Regions from separate parts of the Homo sapiens genome. Here region 2 is linked to region 1. Evidence: fine-mapped expression QTL. Tissue or cell type: testis. Region 1 holds a variant in brackets; the other region holds the start of a gene. All regions are shown on one strand. Distances are from middle to middle.

Region 1 (8,101 bases):
GTGATCTTGGCCAATTACATAACCATTATGTGCTTCCTTTTCTTTGTAAAACAGGAACACCCATCATCGCTACCTCCTGAGGTTATTATGCAGATTAAATGAGTATGTGTGCACCATGTAGGCCACTGCCTGGCACATGCTAAGTGCTATGTAGATAAATGCTCATCATGTAATAAGGGCTCTGTGTTTCTGCTCATTGTCAGCATCATTAGCAGCATTATTACATGACTCAGCAATTTCCTTGTGTTCTGTGTCAATCAGCTTCATGCAGTTTCTCCTCTTTCTTGTTCATTGTGTCTATTTCATCTTCTCTTTCTCCTTTTAGAAAGGGAGTTTGGGCTTGAAATCCCACAAAAGGAGATTTCTAAGAAAGCTTCATTTCAAAAGGATATGGTAGGTGAGTTCACAAGAGATGGTTCATGGTGTTCCATTTTAGAAGAACTGAGGCTGGATGCTGACCGCACAAAGAAAGATGAGCAAAATCAAATTCAACCCATGAGTCACAGTGCTTTCTTCAACAAGAAAACATTGAACACAGAAAGCAATTGTGAATATAAGGACCCTGGGAAAATGATTCGCACGAGGCCCCACCTTGCTTCTTCACAGAAACAACCTCAGAAATGTTGCTTATTTACAGAAAGTTTGAAGCTGAACCTAGAAGTGAACGGTCAGAATGAAAGCAATGACACAGAACAGCTTGATGACGTTGTTGGGTCTGGTCAGCTATTCAGCCATAGCTCTTCTGATGCCTGCAGCAAGAATATTCATACAGGAGAGACATTTTGCAAAGGTAACCAGTGTAGAAAAGTCTGTGGCCATAAACAGTCACTCAAGCAACATCAAATTCATACTCAGAAGAAACCAGATGGATGTTCTGAATGTGGGGGGAGCTTCACCCAGAAGTCACACCTCTTTGCCCAACAGAGAATTCATAGTGTAGGAAACCTCCATGAATGTGGCAAATGTGGAAAAGCCTTCATGCCACAACTAAAACTCAGTGTATATCTGACAGATCATACAGGTGATATACCCTGTATATGCAAGGAATGTGGGAAGGTCTTTATTCAGAGATCAGAATTGCTTACGCACCAGAAAACACACACTAGAAAGAAGCCCTATAAATGCCATGACTGTGGAAAAGCCTTTTTCCAGATGTTATCTCTCTTCAGACATCAGAGAACTCACAGTAGAGAAAAACTCTATGAATGCAGTGAATGTGGCAAAGGCTTCTCCCAAAACTCAACCCTCATTATACATCAGAAAATTCATACTGGTGAGAGACAGTATGCATGCAGTGAATGTGGGAAAGCCTTTACCCAGAAGTCAACACTCAGCTTGCACCAGAGAATCCACTCAGGGCAGAAGTCCTATGTGTGTATCGAATGCGGGCAGGCCTTCATCCAGAAGGCACACCTGATTGTCCATCAAAGAAGCCACACAGGAGAAAAACCTTATCAGTGCCACAACTGTGGGAAATCCTTCATTTCCAAGTCACAGCTTGATATACATCATCGAATTCATACAGGGGAGAAACCTTATGAATGCAGTGACTGTGGAAAAACCTTCACCCAAAAGTCACACCTGAATATACACCAGAAAATTCATACTGGAGAAAGACACCATGTATGCAGTGAATGCGGGAAAGCCTTCAACCAGAAGTCAATACTCAGCATGCATCAGAGAATTCACACCGGAGAGAAGCCTTACAAATGCAGTGAATGTGGGAAAGCCTTCACTTCTAAGTCTCAATTCAAAGAGCATCAGCGAATTCACACGGGTGAGAAACCCTATGTGTGCACTGAATGTGGGAAGGCCTTCAACGGCAGGTCAAATTTCCATAAACATCAAATAACTCACACTAGAGAGAGGCCTTTTGTCTGTTACAAATGTGGGAAGGCTTTTGTCCAGAAATCAGAGTTGATTACCCATCAAAGAACTCACATGGGAGAGAAACCCTATGAATGCCTTGACTGTGGGAAATCGTTCAGTAAGAAACCACAACTCAAGGTGCATCAGCGAATTCACACGGGAGAAAGACCTTATGTGTGTTCTGAATGTGGAAAGGCCTTCAACAACAGGTCAAACTTCAATAAACACCAAACAACTCATACCAGAGACAAATCTTACAAATGCAGTTATTCTGTGAAAGGCTTTACCAAGCAATGAATTCCTAGTGCATCAGCATATTCATAAATGAAATATACTCCGAGTTTCTTGAAGAAGAGAAAATCTTCTCAGAATCAGGTCTAATTATATGTTATTGAATTCATGCTTCAGAAAAACTCTAGGGATGCACTGCATGTGTGAACACATGATAAAAAAGTCATGCTTTATTTTAGTGAGGGCAATTACAGAGAAAAGAGTAAGCAGAAATGTCCTTCTGAGTACTGGCCTCATTAAGGATTATAAATTTTCTCCCCGGGAAGAAACCCTGACTAACGCATTGAGAAAAGCCTTTCTGTAAAGAATGGTACAAGACAGGTTGTTACTCGATTATTTATAGTAAAATATGTGGGAAATTATATCAATGATAACCCTGTTTATTGTGGGATATCAATATTTTTAAAGTGCCAACACAGTCATGATAGGACAATATTTTATGTGTGTGTGTGCGCCTTATGTATATAAGCATATATATAATATATAAGCATATTATTATATACAGGTTGAGTATCCCTTCTCCAAAATGCCTGGGATCAGAAGCATTTTGGATTTCAGATACTTACAGATTTTGGAATATTTGCATTATATTTATTGGTTGAGCATCCCTAATCTGAAAATCCAAGATTAAATGCTCCAATTAGCATTTCCTTTGAGCGTCATGTTAGAGTTCAAAAAGTTTCAGATTTTGGGTTTTCAGATTAGGAATACCCAACCTGTATGTACGTATATTTCTGTATCTATGTATGTATATATATGCATATGCAGACATATGTATATGGTCTGGTCAGCATATGTGTATGTATGCGTATGTATGTATGTATGTATGCCCTCAGTGCAGTGGGGTTTGCTGCAGAATTCACTGCATAGCAGGAGATGTAAGCAGATGAGTTATTTTTTAAGAGAATCTAATCTAATTGTTTTTATAAAAATTATTCCCTATTGAATATTTATATAATGAGGTTGTATCAACAATGATTAACTCCTTTATTATACATACACATGAATGTGCATTTTTGGTAAATGCATAAATGAGATTCTATAATGTTTACTGATCTTTATATTACAGATTTTCTCTTCTTTTAGGATTAGCTCAGCTTGCCCCCCCTTTCCATCTCCACCATCTATAGTGAGCCTCTCCATAATTAGTGCCAACCATTAGTCTCGTTCATATTTTTACACCAGGAGTCAACAAACTGTGGCCATTGGCCAAATATGGCCTCCCAACTGTTTTTTTAAAATAAAGTTTTATTGGAACACAGCCATGTTCATTTGGACATGTATTGTCTGGGCTTCTTTTGTGCTGCACTGGCAGAATTGAGTAGTTTTGGCGGAGATCAAATAGCCCCCAAGCTGGAAACTGAAAATATCTACTCTCTGGCTCTTTACAGAAAATGTTTGCCAGCACATGATACACACACAAACACACACACATACACACATATTACTATGTTCATCATCATATACCTGTGTAAGTACTCTTTCATTGATTTATAAAACTCAGATCTCTTACGTGTGTGGATGGTATTTTTTTCATTCTACAATCCATGATGGATTGTACACACGTGTATTCTATGAGGTTGACCTGCCATAATTTATTTAGCCATTCCCACAGTTTTGATTACTTATTTCCTCCCCACACACATTTTTTGCTAAAAAACGGAGAGGGAACTGTTATCAATACTTCCGAGAAGCAGACCAGCATAATCTTTTAAGTGCACAGGCCCAGGAGCCAGGTTCCTGCATTTGATTCCTGGCTCCACTCTCTACCCTCTGCATCTGCTGAGCAAGTTATTTGGTCTCATCTATTCTGGTTTTCTCATCTACAAAAGGGAGATGATGATAGTACCCTACCCCCATGCATTTGGTGTGAGAAGTGTGTGTGTGTTAAACCCTTGGAACTGCATGGACAGACCAAGTGCTGATGAATTTTAGCGGGCCTCGTATCCCTGAGCCTGCCTGGTTCCCTTGTGCTGGGTGTGGGACTGTGGTGGGAGATTTCTGTCAGCTGGAAGTCTTTTCCAGAAGGGTGTTAGAGATGGGCACCCATGGCTTTAGTCTCCATACCCCTTCAAGGTTGATAGGGGCCCACACAGCTGGTCAGGAACCAGCACAGACCTCAGGCTGTGTCTAAAACAAGGTGACTGCACATGCAGGAGCCTGTGCTGGGCCCTGGAGAGCAAATCTGTTCTGTGTCTCACTGGCCTCTCCCTGTCCAGGGGCGTAGTATCAGTGACCATGTCCCACCTCCTGAGAAAGGTGGAAGAGTCTCACCTGGGGAGTCCAGGTACAAGGGCTGGCCGGCCGTAGATGACTGGTGTGGGGTGGAAAGGCTGCAGAGGCCTCTCCATGGTGGTGAGGGGTGGAAATAGTGTGCACCTGGGTCCTGGGAGTGGCACCCTGACCAGTTTCAGGGAGGAAGGTGGCAGGGCCCTAGGACAAGTGTGTTAAAAACTTGAGCCCACAGTGTAGACACACTGGTTCCAAAGACCCCTCAGGATGTGCCTCCCTTCTCAGATCTGGGCTTTCCCTGTTCCTAAGCATCACCTGGGGGGATCACTCTGGGTCCTCATCTCCAGCCACATGTTCACTCCTCACGTGGGCCTCCCTAACTGTCCCCCTCAGGGCAAGCCCTTCCTCCCCACTTCCAGAAAGCTGCTCGTTCCCTGGCCATCCCACACCTCTGACCTCGTGCCACTTCCGGGGCCTGTTGGCTTTAACAACTTAGTTTCCTCCCTACCTCGCAACCCCCTCTGTCTAGAGTGCTCACCTCCCTCCCAGCCTCTGTCTCATACTATTTT[T/C]TCTTTCCTCTCAGTACCAAGCGCTGGGACAAGCCAGTCTGTACTCAATGCCTGTGGGATAATAGACGGAGGAATCTGGAGTTTGGTTGGGTGATTAGCTTTGGAATTGATGGGTCCCAGGGAGCTATCTAAAGTTTTCAGTCACATGAGGGCATGCTCACAGATCTGTGAAAAGATCTGTTGGCTCAGAGAACTAAGAGATGAATAAATGTTAGTCCAATGGCCTCATCATGAGATGAGAGGTCAAGAGTTTTGAGTTTCCAGAGGGAGAAGCTACTATTCTAGGCAGCTTGTATGAACTAACTCGTTTATTCCTCACAGCCATTGTAGGAAATAATCTAACCTCATAAACCCCATTTTAGAGATGAGGAAACAGGCTTAGAGAATTTGACGTAAACTCAAGACCGAAAATCTAGGAACAAGAAAAGCCTGGATTTGAACCAAGCTATCTGATGCCAGTGTTTTAACTCTCAACCATTGTACTACTTTACCTCCTCATGACCTTTTTTTTTTTTTTCTTGTGAGATGGAGTCTCGCTCTGTCGCCCAGGCTCTGGAGTGCAGTGGCACGATCTCAGCTCACTGCAAGCTCCGCCTCCCGGGTTCACGCCATTCTCCTGCCTCAGCCTCCCGAGTAGCTGGGACTACAGGCGCCCACCACCATGCCTGGCTAATTTTTTGTATTTTTAGTAGAGACGGGGTTTCACCGTGTTGGCCAGGATGGTCTCGATCTCCTGACCTCGTGATCCCCCCCCCTCGGCCTCCCAAAGTGCCCATGACCTTTTTATTGTTGGGCAGTGAAAGCCATGGTGAAATGAAGAATGTCCTACTGTCATGTGATGTGATCAGAAAACATACTGCCCAGAGTCCCCTGCCCCCACCCCCAAAACCAGTACTTGATCCATCCTTTGACTGTTGTGGCGATTGGCACAAAGGTTGGGCACAGTAGTAGTTAGGCTCATGGGCTCTGGAGCCAACCTACCTGGATGCTACACATCCCAGCTCTGCCCCTCGCTAGTTTGGTGGCAAGCAACTTAACCTCTCTGCCTTAATTTCTCCAGCAGCACAATGGGAATAATAATAGATCTCGCCTTGTGGCTCCTTTGCAGATTACATGCGTTAATTATGTAAAGTCAAGCATTAGAATGGTGGCTGTCCACCATGAGTACAACACAAATGCTCGTTCTTAATGATTCAACAAACATGGAATTTCATTAAATCTGAAATAAAGGTATTTTGAGAAATTGAATTCCGTTATCAAGTGTGAAGTCCTGATCCAGACTCACCTCGTGCACACTATTTACCACAAAGGTGGACTCCCTATTTTAAATGCATTCACTTAAAGAGACCTTTCCCTGTACTAATTAGTGTTTGTTAAGAAGGACCTTCTGGACATAGTTGAAAGAAAGAGAAAAGAAGCAGGTGTGGGGAGGAGGAGAAGGAGAAGGGAGGAAGGGAGGGAGGGGAAAGAAGATGGATGGACAGATGGAAGGAAGGAATTAGGGATGGCAGAAAGGAGATAAAATAAACTCTACTTTTAAAAGAAACCAGGTGGGGTGAGTGGGAGGGCTTCCCTGTGACCTTGGCCTCAGGGGCTCTTTCTGGCTTCCAGATAAGATACCCCTCAGCTTTGCACTGGGTCTCCTGAGGCTTGGAAGTTATGTCCACAGTGAGGTTGGTGTAGAGGGGCAGCCACTCTTTGGAGAGCAACCTGTAGCCCAGACAGTTGATGCCATCATCAGAGGATCCAGGGATCGGAGGATTGGCGGATCCGGGACAGAAGGCGAGGCCTGGAGGATGGGGAGGGGCAGCCATGTGAGCCTCAGGGAGGACCCAGAACCAACCACCCCACTTCCAACACTGATTCACCTCCAGGGCCTCTGCTTGTGGCCAGGATCTTCCCCCTCCAGCATATGGTAGCCTCTGAAAAGCAGGTGGGGCTGGGAGAGGAGCATCCCGCTTAGTTTCACCCTTCCAGAGACACAGGAAGGCATGGAGGCCAAACACCTGTCTCTGACAGGGTCCCCATGCCACAGCCCAGCCCTCCAGTCCAGGGTAGCCCATGTCCCCCTCAGCCCAGGGCGGCCCATACCTGCCTCATCATGTCAGGACCTGCAGCTCCTGCCTCCCACCTGGCAGTGATGTCATCCTCATCATCCCAACCCCACTACACGTTGGAGAAGCCATTTATCTTCAGGTAGTGAGTGGGGTGCAGGGCAAACACCCCTCCAAGGCACAAGCTAACGGCTTAATTGCTGTTGTTTCCCCATGTTCTGGCTTGCAGCACTTGTAACCTCTGGGCTCCTGCAGCCCTTAACATCTGATACCTTTACATTAAGATTTATCATCCTTATCTCTGGACCAGGCTGAATACACCTGTGTCCCGGTGCATCTGGCCAGCGGGTCAAAGGGCCTAGCACACAGATTAACAAATGAATGAGTTCCAGTTACCAAAGTTCAATCCTTGAGGTGGACAGAAGACGCCCAAGGCGTGTCTCCCATCACCCTTCACTCTCAATCCTCCTTATCAAGGGCCTCACGGGAATAGTGATAAGATCTCAGAATATACAGGAGGGAGCAGTTTCGGGAAGGGGGGCATTGGAAGGAAGTGGAGGGCTTGGATCTGGGGAGCAAGCGGGGAGAGTGCTCCGTTCCTTGGTTTTGGGATCTTGCCTTACGGGTCTCACCTGCCCTCCATCCTGGCTTCCACCTGGCAGGGTGTGTTTGTGTCAGAAAGACGATTGTGCGTAACTGTTCACCGCGTCCACGTCCCGAGAGTTGCGCACGCGTGGAGATCTGCAAAACGCTCCCTTTCAGCTCCGCGCATGCACAGAGACCCCACCCCGCAAGTCCTTGCCCTTCGGCCTGGGCAGGCGTCCACTCCCATGGCTGCAGGGCGCGCCGAAGAGCCCACTCTGCATCCCCGAGACGCGGCCCAATCCTAGGAATGTGCTTAGCGCAGGTGCTATCTTCCCTTTTCACATTCCCAATCTCTTTCTCCGCCCCCTCAAACTCTTGCCATACTCCCACAACAGCAGAAAATCTGAAAAAAAAGTCCATCCCATCTTTGCACTGACAGCAGTGCACAGCAGCTGGCAGAGAATTCTGGCACGGCTATTGTGCTTGCGCAGGCGCAGACGG
Region 2 (8,101 bases), 770 kb before region 1:
ACAGGGTCTCCAGTCCTGGCCAAGGGGGAAGGGACCTCAGGGTCCAGCTCCTGCACATGGGGCAGGGTCCAGGTGGACAGTGCCTGCAGACAGGTTAGGGGGAGGAGGGGCAGGACCATCTGCAGGACGCTGCCCCTGCGGGCACATCGCAGAGGCCACCTCTCCAGGACTACTCTCTGACTCGACGGTAACAACACATTACCACGAGGAACGGTGAACTCTGGTGTGGGGGGTGAGATGCAGTTGTCCCTGGATGGGCGGGGGAAGGAGGGGGAGCTGGGGCACTGATGGGGCGAGTGGCTACAGCTAGCTGGGAAGCAGTGAAGCAGATGCCTGGTTAGCTCTCAGAAGCCAGTTCAGAGGCTGAGTCCCCTCCCTCAGCCCTTCCAGACCCTGGGGGCAGGGCTGCCTCACCACACAGGTGTCTTTGCCACCTTCCAGGTGTCCGACACACAGCATGAAGTCTGTCACCTTCTGGACGTGGGCTTTTTTGCACTCATCATTAGGCAGGATTTTGAGGTCCACACACTGGAGATCATCTGGAAATGAGACTACGAACCCGGGAGAAAAAGGGCTGCAGCCCGACCTCACCTGCTTCCCTGGCCCTTTCTCCCTTGGACGCAGGAGTCCCCATCCCCGCCTTGGGCTACACAGTCTGCCCCCACATACAATTCTCTGGTTCGATGCTGCCCCAGCCGGAAGCCAAACAGGTGCTCCCCACTTCGGGTTCCTCGGTGGGCAACTCCACGACCTTCACAGCATCTGTGATGGTATCAGCAGGCTCTGTCAGGCGGAGCAGCATGAGGTCGTGGCTGTAGTCCTCGTCTGCTTGGCGGGTGTGGTTCTCCAGGAGGCTCATGTTGAAGCCAGGGTGTGGGAAGCTCTCACTGACATGAACAAACTGGGCTGTGTTTTCGTCGTCAAACAAGTTGTGGCGACCCAGCCAGAGCTGGTAATTGCTGGGGAAAGATGGGAATGGAGGGATGAGAAGACGGGAAGGGGAAAAGGGGATGGGGCAGGGGAGCATGGGGGAGGGTCCCCAAAGAGAGAAAGGGAAAGAGAAAAATGTGGGTGGGCGGAGACAGAGGAAGAAAGATATAGTTATGGAGAAATACAGACAGCGAATGGGAAGATGAAAGATTTTGAGAGTGCAAAAGGCAAATGAAGAGACAGAGCAAAAAAGAGCTCAAAAGGACAGAGGGGTGAAAAAGGCGGAGGGGAGGGCAGTGAGAAACAGGGTGAGCAAAAAAGAGGCAGATGAGAAGGATAAAAGACAGGGACAGCGAGAAACAGGCCCAGGGAAGAGGGAGGAAGAGGGAACAGAACACGGAAGGGAGCGAGAAGCAGACAAATGAAAAAGGACGCGGGACGTCAGAGTGAGAACTAGAAACAGAGGCAGAGAGGAAGCAGGAGTGACCGAGTGTGGGAGAGAAAAGGGAGGGAGGCCCTGGGGGAGGGTGGGGGCAGGTGGGGAGGGTGGGGGCAGGTAGGGAGGAGGGGAGGCCTGAGAGCGGCTCAGCTGCAGCTGGGGCTGTGGTGCGGGCTCCCCAGGGGCAGGTGGCCTGGCCTGAAGTCCAAGGTCGAGGCCCCCTTCCCTTCCCAGCACCCTCCCGCGCGTTTCTCGCCCCGCCTCCTCCTTCCTCCTCCCTCAGTTGCCCCACCCAGCTCCCGCTGAAACCAGCCCTTCCCTGTGTCTCTCCAGAGTGGAGGGATATCCTGTGGGGCGGGGAGCTGGACAGAGGGAGAGGCGCCCCCTCCCAGGCACACAAGTTGGGGATAAAGCCCTTCCTTTACTCTGGGGCCTCCCTTAGGTCCATCTGGGTGTGTGTTTAGTAGGGATGAGGGAGCGGTGAGGTAGAGACCCAGAGAGAGAGAGATGGGTAGAGAGATGGAGGGTGAGACACAGTGACAGAGATGCCGCAGAGAGACTCAGAGACAGACAGAGACAGGGGAGATGCAGAGACAAGGAGACAGAGGAGAGAGAGGAAGACAGAGACCAGAACACAGTCACACAGAGACACAAGCAGAACCAGATCCCAAGAGACCCAGGCAGCCTTGGAGAGGGGTGTCCAGCCCAGCTCTGCCCTGCCAGGCGACCTGCGCCAGAGCCTTCCTCTCTGCCTCAGCCCCCCAGTCTTGCCTGAGGTTATCCAAGGGGAATGCCACTGGCCTGTCAATCCTGTGGCAGCATAGATGCCCTCCTCCCAGACCCCAGGCCCCTACTCACTCGCTGATGCAATGAGCAGCTGTGAGCACCCACTGGCGGTGCACCAGGATGCCCCCACACTGGAAAGTGCTGAAATGGTACAGAGCCGCCTGCCAGGGCTGGGAATGCTGCTCACACTCCCAGCCTCCCACAATCCGGGACTGAATCGGGGGCGCAGCACCTGCAGAGGCGGTGCTGGGTCAGGAAGGGCAGGGTTGGCAGGAGAGGCCAGGGACAAGGCTAGGAGAGGGAGCTGGGCTGTGGGTCTGAAGGGACATTGCGGGTAGAGGACCAGGGCTGGAGGTTGGGGACATGGGCAAGGGGTGTTGGGAAGGGGTGGGACTCTGGACTGTTCCCTGGGCTTTTGGAGTGGTGGCTGGACCTGGTGGGGAGATTTTGTGCTCTGACAGTAGAGCAGCCTCCAGGGATCAGGGTAGGAGACAGGAGACAGTGTCTGGAGCAGACACTGCATCTGGGCGTCAGGTCATTTGGGGTCTGGGGCTGGGGGATGGGAGGTGGTGGGTTAGGGGAGTGGAAAGGGATTCTGGAAACCAGGGATCAAGGCGCCAAGGGTGGGACAGGATCAGAGGCTCACTGAGGAAGAATCTGGAGGGCTAAGGGGCTCCTAGGCTAGGGAAACAGGACCTGGGTTGGGCTTTTGAGGTTCAGGAAAGGATGCAGCTTTAGGGAACCAGGTCTGAGAGGTAAAGAAGAGCATCTGGACTGAAGAGTTTGGGGGTGACTTGGGGTCCCTACATTGGGGTTGGAAGGGGCCAGCTTGGCTGGGACAGTTAGATTTCAGGGCTTCCTGGTTAAAGGGTAAAAGAAAGGGCTATGGTTAAGGCTAGAGGTGGGCTTCCGAGAGGTTTTGGGGTCCTTCCTGTGAACCAGGAATGGCAATCTGAGGGGAGGTTGGGGCCCTGAGAACACAGTTGCGGTCAGGACTGGGACGGGGCTCAGGAGGAGGGAGGCGTGAGTGGCAGTCCTTCTCGGACAGGGTGAAGGATGGGATCTTCGTTTCTCATGGGGATGGGGTTCATGGTCTGAGGGTACTGGAAGGATATGGGGTCCTCTTGGAGGCAATCCTAGGAAGAGGATTGGAGAAGTGGTGAGAACAGGCGCCAAGCAGCTGTGGGAATGCAATGCAGGACCCACTTGACGTGAGGTTGTAGAATCACATACTGACTTGGGGGAGGCCAGGGCAGAAGCGCTGGCTGAGAAGGCATTCAGGATCCTTGGGGTGGGGTTCCAGAAAACCAGAGCTGTGTAGGAACAATTCAGGCAGAGAAGGGCTGGGGCCTGGGGCGGGATGGAACTTCCCCAAGGAAAGGAGCATGTGGTGGGAGGGTGTGGTGTTTTTCCTGGGAGAGCTGGGGGTGCTGGGTGGGAAGGGACATTTGCAGACCCCCCCCCATACCAGATGGGGGATCCCACATGCCAGTTTGGGAAGCAGGGTTTTCTGGTGAAATTTGGGGGACCCTGGAAGGACTGGGGAGACCAGATGTCAGGGTCTGGAGGACACAGTTGAGAGCGGACAGCTGGATGGAAAAAGTCACTGGAGTGTGGTGGGATTTGTAGACTCAGGAGCCAAATAGGTGGCCGCAGGGAACTAGGGGGCAGGAGGGGATGATCAGAGTCCTGTGGGGTGGGGGAAGCCCATGGGAGGGTTGGGGTCCTCCAGAGAGAGACAGAGATGGCCCAGAATCTGCCCCTTTGGTAAAGCGGTGGGACAGGGCGTTGGCTAGGGAAGAGGAGAAAGTACTGAGGCTTCCTGGGAGGAGCAGGAATCTGGTGTGGGAGTGAGCACTATGACAACATGGAGGAGCGGGGGTGGAAGTTTAGGGTGGGGCCGCGCAAGATAGATAAGAGCCGGGGCACCCCGGACTAGGATAGACTGTGGGCCAGAGGGATGAGGGTGGGGTGTTGGAGGGGAAGGTCTTATCGGGGGGGGATGTGAGGCCAGCAAGAGAATCAGGGCCCGTTCCCCCTCCCACATCCCCCCACTGTCTCACCAGTCCCCCCCAGGGACAGGGCGAGGCACAGAACCAGGAACCACATGGTGACAGAGGTGTCCAGGGGCCAGCAGGTGGAGGAACTGGGGAACCTCCCTGGGGAGGCTTTTAAAAGCCCTTATCCCCTCAGAGCCCCACCCCTGCCCTGCTGGCACCCAGATGTTGGCCAAGGCCCTTCCCCTGTTGCCTGGGGGCTGGACAATTGCCCCCCCCCCCTCCGATCCCCAGAGCTGTAGACGGGGAGGGAGAACCAGCACCTGTTCTGCAGGCCCTGGATCACGCTGGACGCATTCCTGGGGTTGAAGCCAGGTGGGGCAGGGCCTGTGGCTCTGGGGCTTTGCTCTGGGGAGCAGCCAGTGAGGCAAGGGGGGACTGAGGGGAAGCAGAAACAGGAAGACGGAGGAATCAGTGACCCCTGGTACAAAGCCCCATATACCTCAGTCTCAATTAAGGCCCTGCACCCCCAGACCTGGTGCCCTCAAACACCAGCAGTTAGGGCTCTGATTCCCTGCACCACTCGGAGCCAAGATACTAGCATCTCAGCTGCCAGTTCCCCCTGAAATATAAGCCTTGGCCTTCAGAATGCCCTGGTTCTTGCACTCCCAGACCCAGGACCTAGGTCCCCAAAGCTACTGTTCCTTTCATAATAAAATTTTGGGGTACACATCACCACATTCCTAGTGCCTCCAGATCCAGGAATGTGAAGTTTCAGGGGTCTCCCAGGGTAAGTTCTTTAGCATTACAAAATCCAGTGTCCCTCCCAAACAATGCTGGGGTCTCAATGAGCCTCCCACTTCTTGCTCCCAGTTATGGGTGCTCAACGTCCTGTCCTCCAAAGTCCCAGAGATCTGGACAACCTTCCCTCCCAGGTCAAGATCAGGCTAACCACAGATTCCAATGACCCTTCCCCCCCACCACCAGTACAATATTTAGGTCTCACGAGCCAGGTTCATGTACTTCAACATTCAGCGACCTTGAACATCACATTTTGTGGTCTCTGAAGATAATTAGGAACTAGATTCCTGCAGCCTCAATGGTAAACCCATAGGCTTCCAACAGGTTGTCTTGGCTTTTTGGTAAAATCAAAGCAGCTCAGAGTTCCAGCCTCTGCTGTATATCAGGGACCTGGCTAAGGAAAGGACAGTATTTGCCTTTTTGCCATGGCTACCAGGAAGCCCAGAACTAAATCTTTTTTTTTTTTTTTTTTTTTCTGAGATGGAGTCTTGCTCTGTCACCAGGCTGGAGTGCAGTGGCGCGATCTCGGCTCACTGCAACTCCTGCCTCCTAAGTTCAAGCGATCCTCCCACATCACCCTCCCAAGTAGCTAGGATTACAGTCGTGTGCCACCACGCCCGGCTAAATTTTTTTAGTATTTTTAGTAGAGATGGGGTTTCACCATGTTGGCCAGGCTGGTCTTGCACTCCTGACCTCAAGTGAGCCGCCCGCCTTGGCCTCCCAAAGTGCTGGGATTACAGGTGTGAGCCACCATGCCCGGCCCAGAACTAAACCTTAAAGAAAAAGCCATTCTTGGTAATCTAGTGTCTGTTAGGTCCTTTAACTGGGATCCAGAGATAGAGGGTATTTACTCAGTGCCAGACACGATTTTAATCAGTTCAGACGAATCATCTCATTTAATCCTCACAACAGCCCTTTGAAGTCAGCAATAAGATGGTCTCATTTTACAGATAAGGAAACCAAGGCGAAGTGAGATTGGGCCTCTTGTTCAAGATCACACGGGTGGTCATGTGTGTTGAATGAATGGAGCCCTGCTTCAAGCCGCTTCTCCTCACCTAGGGATCGGGGTGGTGGGTGAAAAGGAACAGTGTACAGTGTCTCGGGGTTTCTCTTTGACCCCAGAAAAAAGTCACAGAAATTCCTACAGAGCAACTTGGATCAGCGCTTTGTTATCTTGGCATTAAACAGGTGACCTTGAGCGCCAGCTTTGTCCTCAGGTGGGACAAGTCCTTGGCTAACATCTGGGCCTTGGACAGGGTCTTGGGGGATGGCTCCGTTCTGTTCCATGTCAGGCGGGGCTGCTGGCCAGCTGTGGGGGCTTCTGCTCAGTCAGGGGCACAGGAGATAGGCTAGAATAGTCAGTTCCTCTTCATGGTTTCCCTGATCCACTCCAAGTAGTGGCAGACTTTGGTATAGACACCAGGCTTGGTGGTGTTGTCACAAGGGACGTCACCCCAGGACACAATGCCCTGCAGGATGCCCCCACAGACCAGGGGTCCCCCAGAGTCACCCTGTGGGGAAAAGAGGGGGTCTCAGGTTGAGTGAAACCTCCTGGATTCATCCTCATCCTAATCACCATTTGCAATCTCACCCCAAACCCAATCCATCCCCATCCCAGGGAACCCCAACCCAACTCAACTCAATACAGCCCAGTTTATCCCAAACAGAGCCAACCCAACCCCAACCCCAACCCCAATTCAACACAGCTCAATACAACTCACCCAACCTATATCCAATCTCACCCCCATGCAACTCCAGTGCAACTGTACTAAGTTAAATCCAACTCAGCCCACATCCTCACCATTCAAAATCAAATCAAACCCATGCCCATCTCAAAATCCAATCTCAATCTTCATGTCTTCTGCATTCCAAACAAAATCTACCTCATCCCAATTCAACCCTGACGTATTTCCCACCCAGAATCAAACCAAACCATTCCCATTCTCAACCCCAACCCATGCCATCTCAAACTAACTATCACATTATCCACCTCAAACAACGCAATCCCCACCTATAACCCCAACTCCAACCTCACCCCTATTCTAACTTCTCTTCCTACTCCATCTCCAAGCCTAACCCTAGCATCTTCTCTGGCCCAAAGCAAAGAAAATCCAACCCCATCCGGACTCCCACACCTGTCCCCATCCCTCTTCTTCCGCCTGATGGCCCCTCTAGGCTCTGACCTCACAGGATTCTGCGCCTCTGCCCTCCGCGCCTGCACACACCATGGTGTTTGTCAGGCGCCCTGGGTAGCTCTTGTCACAAGATGTGTCCGAGATAATGCTGATGTTGGCACAATGCAACGTATCTGGGAGACTCACTGGGGAAGACAGTGGACTTGGAGCAGATCCATAAATTCCGGCCCTTGTCCCCTCCGCCCAAGAGCCCTGGAGCATAGGATTCCTTGAGGCCTCGCATCCAGCTCCATCCTTTCACGCACCTTGTGACCGGGGGCTCCCAGCGGTCCCAGGCTCGTTGTGGGACACCAGGCCCCAGCCAGACACCACACAGGCCTCCCCCGGGTGGGGGCAACGCGTGGGTAGCACCGCGGGGCGCACCTGGGGGTTCAGGCGTGCGGGCTGGACTAGGCGCAGCAACATGATGTCGTTGCGGTGGCTGCGCGCTTCGTAGCGCGGGTGTGGAATGACCCGAGACGTGGTCCGTAGTTGCTCTGGGCCATCGCGCTTGCGCAGGTTGTGCTCTCCCAGGCGCACTCTCATGAAGCTGTGCGGGCGAGTGGTTTTCCCGCCAGTGGAGTGCGGGCCAGTGGTTACCCGCAAGTAGAGGACAGAAAGATCAAAGAGTGGGCAACCCGAGGTCTCCCGACCCTTTAGAAATCTCGACATCCCATTACCTTTTCCCAAGACCCTGAAGCCAATGGTTCCAGCCCCTGCTCCTCAAGGACCAACGAGTCTGAAGTCAGGCACACTCCTAGAACTCGATCCCCTCCAACTACTCCCAGCCCCCTCCTGGTCTGTCCCCGAATCCAGGATTCTCACATCCCTAGAACTGAGGCTCAAAAGCTGGAACTAGTCTTCTCCTTCCTCCTTCAGAGATCGAAGGCTTTGAAACACACACTCCTTCCTAACCCAGGGGCTTGACATCCGGCCTCCTCGTCTTTCAGAACCCAGGAGTTCTGGCGTCTGCC

What was found. PIP is the estimated chance that this variant, and not a neighbour inherited with it, causes the effect.
Region 2: it holds the start of KLK1, and the variant in region 1 is fine-mapped to the expression of KLK1 in testis (GTEx, PIP 0.91).

The regions. Positions count from the first base shown.
Region 1 is chr19:51,586,302-51,594,402 of GRCh38, forward strand. It overlaps ZNF175 (zinc finger protein 175), which reads left to right. Exons shown (of 5, transcript NM_007147.4): 5 at 326-6,209. The coding sequence ends at 2,166. LINC01530 (long intergenic non-protein coding RNA 1530) reads right to left here and starts at 8,079. Exons shown (of 2, transcript NR_034159.1): 1 at 7,648-8,079; 2 at 5,482-6,750. RefSeq lists a silencer at 1,391-1,591 and enhancers at 6,523-7,158, 7,159-7,794, 7,795-8,101. The variant T/C (reference allele first, on the strand shown) is at 4,962.
Region 2 is chr19:50,819,485-50,827,585 of GRCh38, forward strand. KLK1 (kallikrein 1) reads right to left here and starts at 4,303. Exons shown (of 5, transcript NM_002257.4): 1 at 4,219-4,303; 2 at 2,228-2,387; 3 at 670-959; 4 at 415-551. The coding sequence starts at 4,264. It overlaps KLK15 (kallikrein related peptidase 15), which reads right to left. Exons shown (of 6, transcript NM_017509.4): 4 at 7,394-7,677; 5 at 7,137-7,273; 6 at 5,805-6,464. The coding sequence ends at 6,312. RefSeq lists an enhancer at 252-381 and a silencer at 1,495-1,564.